2 linked regions of the Homo sapiens genome follow. The protein of the gene in region 1 purifies or fractionates together with the protein of each later gene. This does not show direct contact. Each region holds a gene or a part of one and is shown on either strand. Other genes may lie near its edges.

What was found.
Region 2: the proteins of OPA1 (region 1) and TRIM22 purify together in Homo sapiens (affinity purification with western blotting; one study listed by BioGRID). This does not show direct contact.

The regions. Positions count from the first base shown.
Region 1 is NC_000003.12:193,641,286-193,645,434, forward strand, and holds part of OPA1 (dynamin-like GTPase OPA1, mitochondrial), read left to right. Parts: intron 1-1,479; coding exon 1,480-1,560; intron 1,561-1,689; coding exon 1,690-1,764; intron 1,765-2,087; coding exon 2,088-2,159; intron 2,160-2,242; coding exon 2,243-2,342; intron 2,343-2,689; coding exon 2,690-2,820; intron 2,821-4,149. UniProt on the Homo sapiens protein: Dynamin-related GTPase that is essential for normal mitochondrial morphology by mediating fusion of the mitochondrial inner membranes, regulating cristae morphology and maintaining respiratory chain function.
Region 2 is NC_000011.10:5,703,290-5,706,789, forward strand, and holds part of TRIM22 (E3 ubiquitin-protein ligase TRIM22), read left to right. Parts: intron 1-3,304; coding exon 3,305-3,327; intron 3,328-3,500. UniProt on the Homo sapiens protein: Interferon-induced E3 ubiquitin ligase that plays important roles in innate and adaptive immunity.

The sequences.
Region 1 (4,149 bases):
GTGTTTACTAGAGCTTCTCCTTGACCAACCCTGAATTCCAGTTTTTTGTTTCCCTAGAGCAGTGAAAGTGCCAAAACCCCAGCTTAGCATTTTAACCTCCTTAGCAGCTTCTTTCTGCTTGGTTTCCTAAAATGTGAATGCCGTGAAAGGAAATTGTGCGCAGGATGTAGGGTTTTGTTTTGTTTTGGAGGTTTATTTCTGCAGTTCATTTTTCTTTGGGATTGTGGCACCTTAAGACGTGACTACTTAATAACTCGGAATTCCAATCTTGTCTACTCAACCCAGTGAAACTGCTACACATTTTAAGTTTTTCTCTTGGGCCTTTGCCCTGTGCTACAAATCAGCAAATCCTCTGATGGAAAATAGCTAAACAGCTTTCCAACAGCTGTTTATTGTTTTTAAATTTAGCCTGTTTAGCTAATCTCAGTAGAAGGAATTGTATTTTTAAAGTAAAATAACTATAGAGAAGCTAGAAAGGTGTCAATTAGGCATTTAGAAGTTCTTGTGAAACCACTGACTGTTAATATACATTGCTATAACATTTCTTGGCTGGGTGCAGTGGCTCATGCCTGTAATCCCAGCACTTTGGGAGGCTGAGGAGGGCGGATCACCTGAGGTCAAGAGTTCAAGACCAGCCTGGCCAACATGGCGAAACCCTGTCTCTACTAAAAGTACAAAAAACTTGCCAGGTGTGGTGGCGGGCATCTGTAATCCCAGCTACTCGGGAGGCTGAGGCAGGAGAATCACCTGAAACCGCGAAGTGGAGGTTGCAGTGAGCCGAGATCATGCCACTGCACTTCAGCCTGGGCGACAGAATGAGACTCGGTCTCAAAACAAACAAAAAAACAAACAAAACAAAATTTCTTACCCAAATATCACTCCTTGAGTGAAGCCTGTCGTAGCTCCCTTATCATCAGTTCCATTCTCTTCTGTGGCACCCTAGGTTTTGTCACTCTCTTCTATTATGTCTGTGTATATTTCTCCCAGCATGTGATGAGGTCTAAAACTGGGACAGTCAGCTCTGTGTTTCCCCACCTACAACACCTGACACATAGTTCACTCTCTATAGAGGTTGAATGAATGAATTGTCCTTTACCTAAATTCATCTTTGAGGTTAAATGCAAGGTTTCCTTTTAGTGTTTCAAGTTTTAGAGAGATGATTTTGGGCTTAGTGCTGTGTATAGCATTGACTGGGGAAAGAAAGAGGCAGCAGCATTTTAGGTCATAAGCGATATAAAGGAACCAGCATTCTTGTTGGGAAATCACAACATATATGACATATATACAAACAATACAAATACAAAATTATTGTCTTGTCAGAACTACCATGTTGACAGCTTCAGGGGGTGCCCCAGCAGTAGTGTGAAGGGACTCTTGGATTTGTGCAATGCAGTAGCCCTGTCTAGACCACATACGGGCTGTGGGAATTAATATTACTTATAAATACATCATTACCTCTCAGTTTTCTGTTACTATCAGGTGACTCTGAGTGAAGGTCCTCACCATGTGGCCCTATTTAAAGATAGTTCTCGGGAGTTTGATCTTACCAAAGAAGAAGATGTAAGTAAAATTCATCTAAGGTTGATATGTGTAATTTTATAACCTGGATGAGCTTATAAAAGACAGTTAAAGAATATTTGTGAATTAAGATTTTCTTAGATTTTCTTAGGATTTTGTGTTTTCCATTAGCTTGCAGCATTAAGACATGAAATAGAACTTCGAATGAGGAAAAATGTGAAAGAAGGCTGTACCGTTAGCCCTGAGGTAAGGGTTGCAATTCATTTCAGTGACGTTTTATGGAAATTAAATGTTTATGATTTCAAATAAATCAAAATCTAGGTATTGATGTTTAGATTGCTGCTATCTAGATATGTAGAGCTTTTAAAAAAAAATCCAAATAATATATCATTTTGTGGGTAATTTTCCAGAATAATTACTTTTAGGATCAGAGAAAGAATACCATTTTTGTGAGCGTCTTATCTGAATGGATGAGATATAGAATTTTTAGAATACATTTCACCAAAAAAAATTCTTGACAAATTCCCCCCAAACTTTAGCATTGTTTTATTTTTATTTTTCCTGAGTAGACCATATCCTTAAATGTAAAAGGCCCTGGACTACAGAGGATGGTGCTTGTTGACTTACCAGGTGTGATTAATGTAAGTATATACAAAACATGTATTTTATTTTATTCTTATTGTGTGAAGCATTTATAATGACATTTAAAACCTTTTTCTTTAAGACTGTGACATCAGGCATGGCTCCTGACACAAAGGAAACTATTTTCAGTATCAGCAAAGCTTACATGCAGAATCCTAATGCCATCATACTGTGTATTCAAGGTAAATCATATCAAAAGATTTTAATGTACTGATATGTTTTCTTCTTTAGCAATCCAAGCTTTGCATTAAATAGTTTGTGTTATGTAAACATACAAGATAAATGCATTTTTGCCTTCTCTTCGTATTCATTTTATTAGTAAATTAAATTGAAGTTGAAATTATTTTGATAAGTTTTACATAAGCATCATTGAAATTTTTATCGGCTAGGATTTCTTTTTAGTAAATAACGTAAATGTATTAAAATCTTTCTTGCTATAATGTAGACACAGGGGTATAATTTGTACTGAGTTTTAAAAGTCTACTTTACATCTTAAAATTCCACAGTGTCATTTTTTTATTTTTTTCAGATGGATCTGTGGATGCTGAACGCAGTATTGTTACAGACTTGGTCAGTCAAATGGACCCTCATGGAAGGAGAACCATATTCGTTTTGACCAAAGTAGACCTGGCAGAGAAAAATGTAGCCAGTCCAAGCAGGGTGAGGTCAAATTCTTTGTTGCGAGAATAGATTCTTTGTAAAAGCTCCAGCTGTGATAGGGATTTGTTATTTAAAAAAACAACAACAACAACAAAAAAACACCTTACAACTAAGATTTATTACAATGAAAGGATAAAGCAAAATCACAAAAGGAAATGGTACATGGTATGAAGTCTGAAGGAAACCAGGCTCACGTTTTTCCACTAGTTCATTCCCAGTAGACTCTACTGGGCACATTTAATTCCTCCAGCAACAAGCTGCTTGTTAGAGACTCAGCTCCTAAGGTTTTCATCGGAGGTTAGTCATTTCGGCACCCTCATGTACCAAAATTATTTCATACTCCCAAAAGGAAAGCATATGTTATAATTAAACCACATTACTTCAGTAGTGAGCCACTGTTATATAAGGAAAGGTTTATATCAGTGTAGGGAACTGTTTACCAGTTAAGTTTTCAGATACCAGCCAAAGACAGGCAGGCCTTTTTAAGGACAGTAGTCTCAGGCCTGCTGTGTTAACCCTTTTCTAGGTAGCCACCATAACCTCTGTTCTGCTTTCTTTTTAAGGGTAAGGCCTGCCGTGGCATTAATGGTTCTGATATGGAGAAGGGGAGAAGTGAGGTAGAAACAAATTTCTGTGGCCTCCTCCCCATCTTTCTTCATTCCTTTCATTTCTTTCAACTCTAGGATAGTGAGTTTATATTTCTTCTGAGATGCAACTGAAGCTTATTTCAGTCCTTTTTGTATAAAAGATTCAGCATTAGCTTAGGTGTAACTTGTCTTAAAGGAGGGATTCTCATCCCATTATTAATCTGAATGGGCTTCAGGGGGTAGAAACTCTAACATATGTGAAAGGTCTCTATGCAAATATGCATTTTTCTGGGTACATAGTCTTTTTTTTTTTTTAGTCACATTTAGAAATGGATTTTTGATCCTAAAAGAGTTGAGAAGCAGTGGATCCAAATATTAAAGAAGAAGGTGGGAGGGGAGGAAGGAGTAAAAGAAGACAATCCAGCTTGGTTAGAATTTAGATATTTGAAGAAAGTATGGAAAAATAATAATAGCTACCATTTATTGAGTGCTTCATGCCTGGCACTGTATCATATTGTCCCATAATCTCACCAACCTTTTTGAAAAAATTAAGTTGTTTACTTAAGGTCGCATAACTACTAGGCAGCAGAGCAGGAATTCAAACTAAGGTCTGTCTGACTTTAAAGAACTACACATCATTCCGGGTTTTCGATACGTGTGTTTTAATAATACATTTTCAATGTAGTAAAATTAAATGTATTTTTTTCAAATAGCAATGGAAAAACATTTTAAATGCTTTTGT
Region 2 (3,500 bases), on another chromosome or scaffold:
ATGCAGTGCTTGATTTTCAGTTCCCGTGTTAATTTGCTTAGGATTATGGCCTCCAGCTGCATCCATGTTGTTGCAAAGGACATAATTTTATTCTTTTTTTTTCTTTTTTTTTTTGAGATGGAGTCTTGCTCTGTCACCCAGGCTGGAGAGCAGTGGCGCAATCTTGGCTCACTGCAAGCTCTGCTTCCCGGGTTCAGGCCATTCTCCTGCTGCATCCTCCCGAGTAGCTGGGACTACAGGCGCCTGCAACCACGCCCGGCTAATTTTTTGTATTTTTAGTAGAGACGGGGTTTCACCTTGTTAGCCAGGACAGTCTCGATCTCCTGACCTCGTGATCCGCCCACCTCAGCCTCCCAAAGTGCTGGGACTACAGGCATGAGCCACCGCGCCCGGAAATTTTATTTTTTTTATGACTATGTAGTATTCCATGGTGTATATGTACCACATTTTGTTTATCCAGTCTACTATTGATGGATACCTGGGTTGATTCCATGTCTTTGCTACAAGCAAGAAAACAAAGAACCCCATTAAAAATGGGCAAAAGTCATGAACAGACATTTATCCAAAGAAGACATACAGGTGGCCAACAAACATATGAAAAAATGCTCATCATTGCTAATAACCTGAGAAATGCAAATCAAAACCACAACGAGATACCATCTCACAACAGTCAGAATGGCTATTATTATAAAGTCAAAAATTAACAGATGCTAGTGAGGCTACAGAGTAATGGGAACATGTACTCTGTTGGTAGAAATGTAAATTATTTCAGCCATTGTAGAAAGCAGTCTGGAGGTTTCTAAAAGAACTTAAAACAGAGCTACTGTTAGACCCAGCAATCCCCCTGCTGGGTATATACCCAAAGGAAAATAAATCATTCTACCAAACCAAATATAGTTTTACTTCTCTTTCATGCTAGATGTCTTATTTCTTTTTATTTTTACTCTTTTCTTCTTTATCTTTCTTTTTTTTTCTTTATTGCACTTGATAAAACTTCCAATACAATGTTGACCTTAGTGGTGAAACCACACACGCTAGTCTTTTTCTTGATTTTAGGAGGAAGTAATTCAGACTTTCACTATTAATTATGTTATTAGTTGTATACTACTTATACATGTTTCTTATCAGTTTTTAGGATGTTCTCTTTTATTATCAGTTTGTTGAGAGGTTTTATCTGAATGGATGTTGATTTTCTTGTTGAATTTTAGGAGTCATTTATAGATTCTGGATATTAATACCTTATCAGACATATAATTTGTAAATATGCTTTCCCATTCTGTAGATTGCCTTTTCGCTCTCTTCATAGTGTTCTTCATAACTTAAAAGTGATTTTTTTAAAGTTTCATTTTGGTAAAGATCTGTTTATTTATTTTTTTCTCACATTGCCTTTACTTTTTGTATCATAGCCAACAAATCACTACCAAATCCAATGTCATGCAATTTTCCCCTTTTCTTCTAGGAGTTTTATATCTTTAGGTCTTTGATTTATTTTTAGTTATAGTGGTTATATGGTATAAGTTATCTATTTTTAATGTTATTGTAGCCATTGTATTATATTGTGCCCTGTTTCACAAACAGTTTGGTAATAAGGGTGAAGAGGTGGCAGAGAGCTGAGGAATGTGCCATTTTTTGCAAACAGTTTGGTAATAAGGCTGAAGACGTGGCAGACAGCTGAGGAATGGACCATAGAGGACAATATTTGTTTGTCTGTCTAACCTCTATTCCTTTTGATTGTTTCTTTATAATAACTTTTGAGGAACCATCCCTACCCTGCCTCATTCCCTGCAGTTGGTTAAAGTAGACAAAATTAGTAGCATTAGGCATGTATATGTTACTCAGTTCTGGCAAATCATTATATCCAACTCTTATATTTTTACCAACTTTACAGTAATTATTTTAAGATATATACTTGACTCAATTGGAGTCGATGGTTTGCATGCCTTAGAATTTTACTGTCATGAGTAAAAAGAGCCGTTGTCTTTTCTGATGGGTATCATATCAGGGATAATAATTTAAACCAGGAGAGTCAAGCTGATGCCATAATTAATCTGAAAATAAGTCAATATAATAGGTATGAAATATAATTTTTAGAAGAAAAACCAGATTCTGATGGCAAGATTTTAGTTTAAAGATGTAGCTATGAGTAAAATTATACTTGACCCCTTGAATTTGTTTTTTAAAAATTTAAACCAGTTTTAGTTGGTTTTGTCAGATATTACAACAACAAAAAAGCTAATACAGGCAGTGAAACTATTTCTGAGGGTGTGAAGTCAACTGGAGGTCAAGTCTTTGTTGGTATAAAGGGGGTCAGATCAGACAGCGGGAGATCAAATATATTGGTACATACTTGTTCAAAAAAATAAAGGAAATAATGGTTATGGTGAGAAAGAAAAGATAGCTAAAAACAGTTAAAAATGTAAACTAGTCTAGGTTAATAAAATGTTGGAATCCAGGATAAAATTTTATAGTTTCAAAGATGATGACTAAGTGGATATTGACACTATTCGGGACAGTGGGGTGTAAATAGTTGGGAAATAGTAAGTTACATTTAAGACCTACTCAGTTACTTGGTCCTGTGGCTTGTTTCATACTGAAAAATGTATGAGATCACCTACAGTGGAGTTTAGTCAGCATACACAGTGAGTACATGGAGGCCAGACAAACTTTTAGTTGAAATGCTTGCTTGCTTTTGCTCACGGCAACAGTACACTTCTTAAGGACTTTTATTATTAATTTTCATCATTAGATCCCTAAAGCCTGAAAAAATATAGGGCAAACGTATTTCGCTGTTTTGTGTCTGTTGATGTATAAAATAAAAACACAATGAATTAATGAGGTTTTCTCATTAAAAATGTATAAAAATATTAGAGCTCCTCCCTCTTTTTAAAATATATTCCTTCTTGAGATACTTGAAGCATCTTCCTAACACCCTCATCTTAGTCCTCTGCAGTGGTCAGTCTGAATCTTATCTCCACACTTTGTCCCCAGTCTGTGACCATCTATTTATTCCCACCATATCCAGGGATAGTAAGAGTGTGGGGAGGAAGGTGGATAAAACTTTGTAAGATAGGAGGGCCTATTACTTTTTTGAGCATTGCTAGACAAAATACAGGATGCTCAGTTAAAGTTTAATTTCAGATAAAAGAAATGTAATATTTTTAGTATAAGAATATCTTAAATATTATAAGGGTCATATATATAACAAAAAATATATTGTTTATCCCAAATTCTAATTGAACTAGCCACTTTTATGTTCTAAATCTGGCAACCCTATCTTGACTCATGTTTTCTATCTTTTCCCCAGGATGTGATTGACGTCATGAAAAGGTATATGTGGAAGAGAGATGTGGTCTTATTTGTCTGAAAAGAGAATTATAGTCCTGAGAGATATCTTCCTTCAATCAGAACAACTTAAAAAATCAAAAGGCTGGGAAATTTGTGTATTAAATTGTCCCAAATTGCTAGTCACAGATTAAAGTTTTCAATTGTAAGAAATTTTG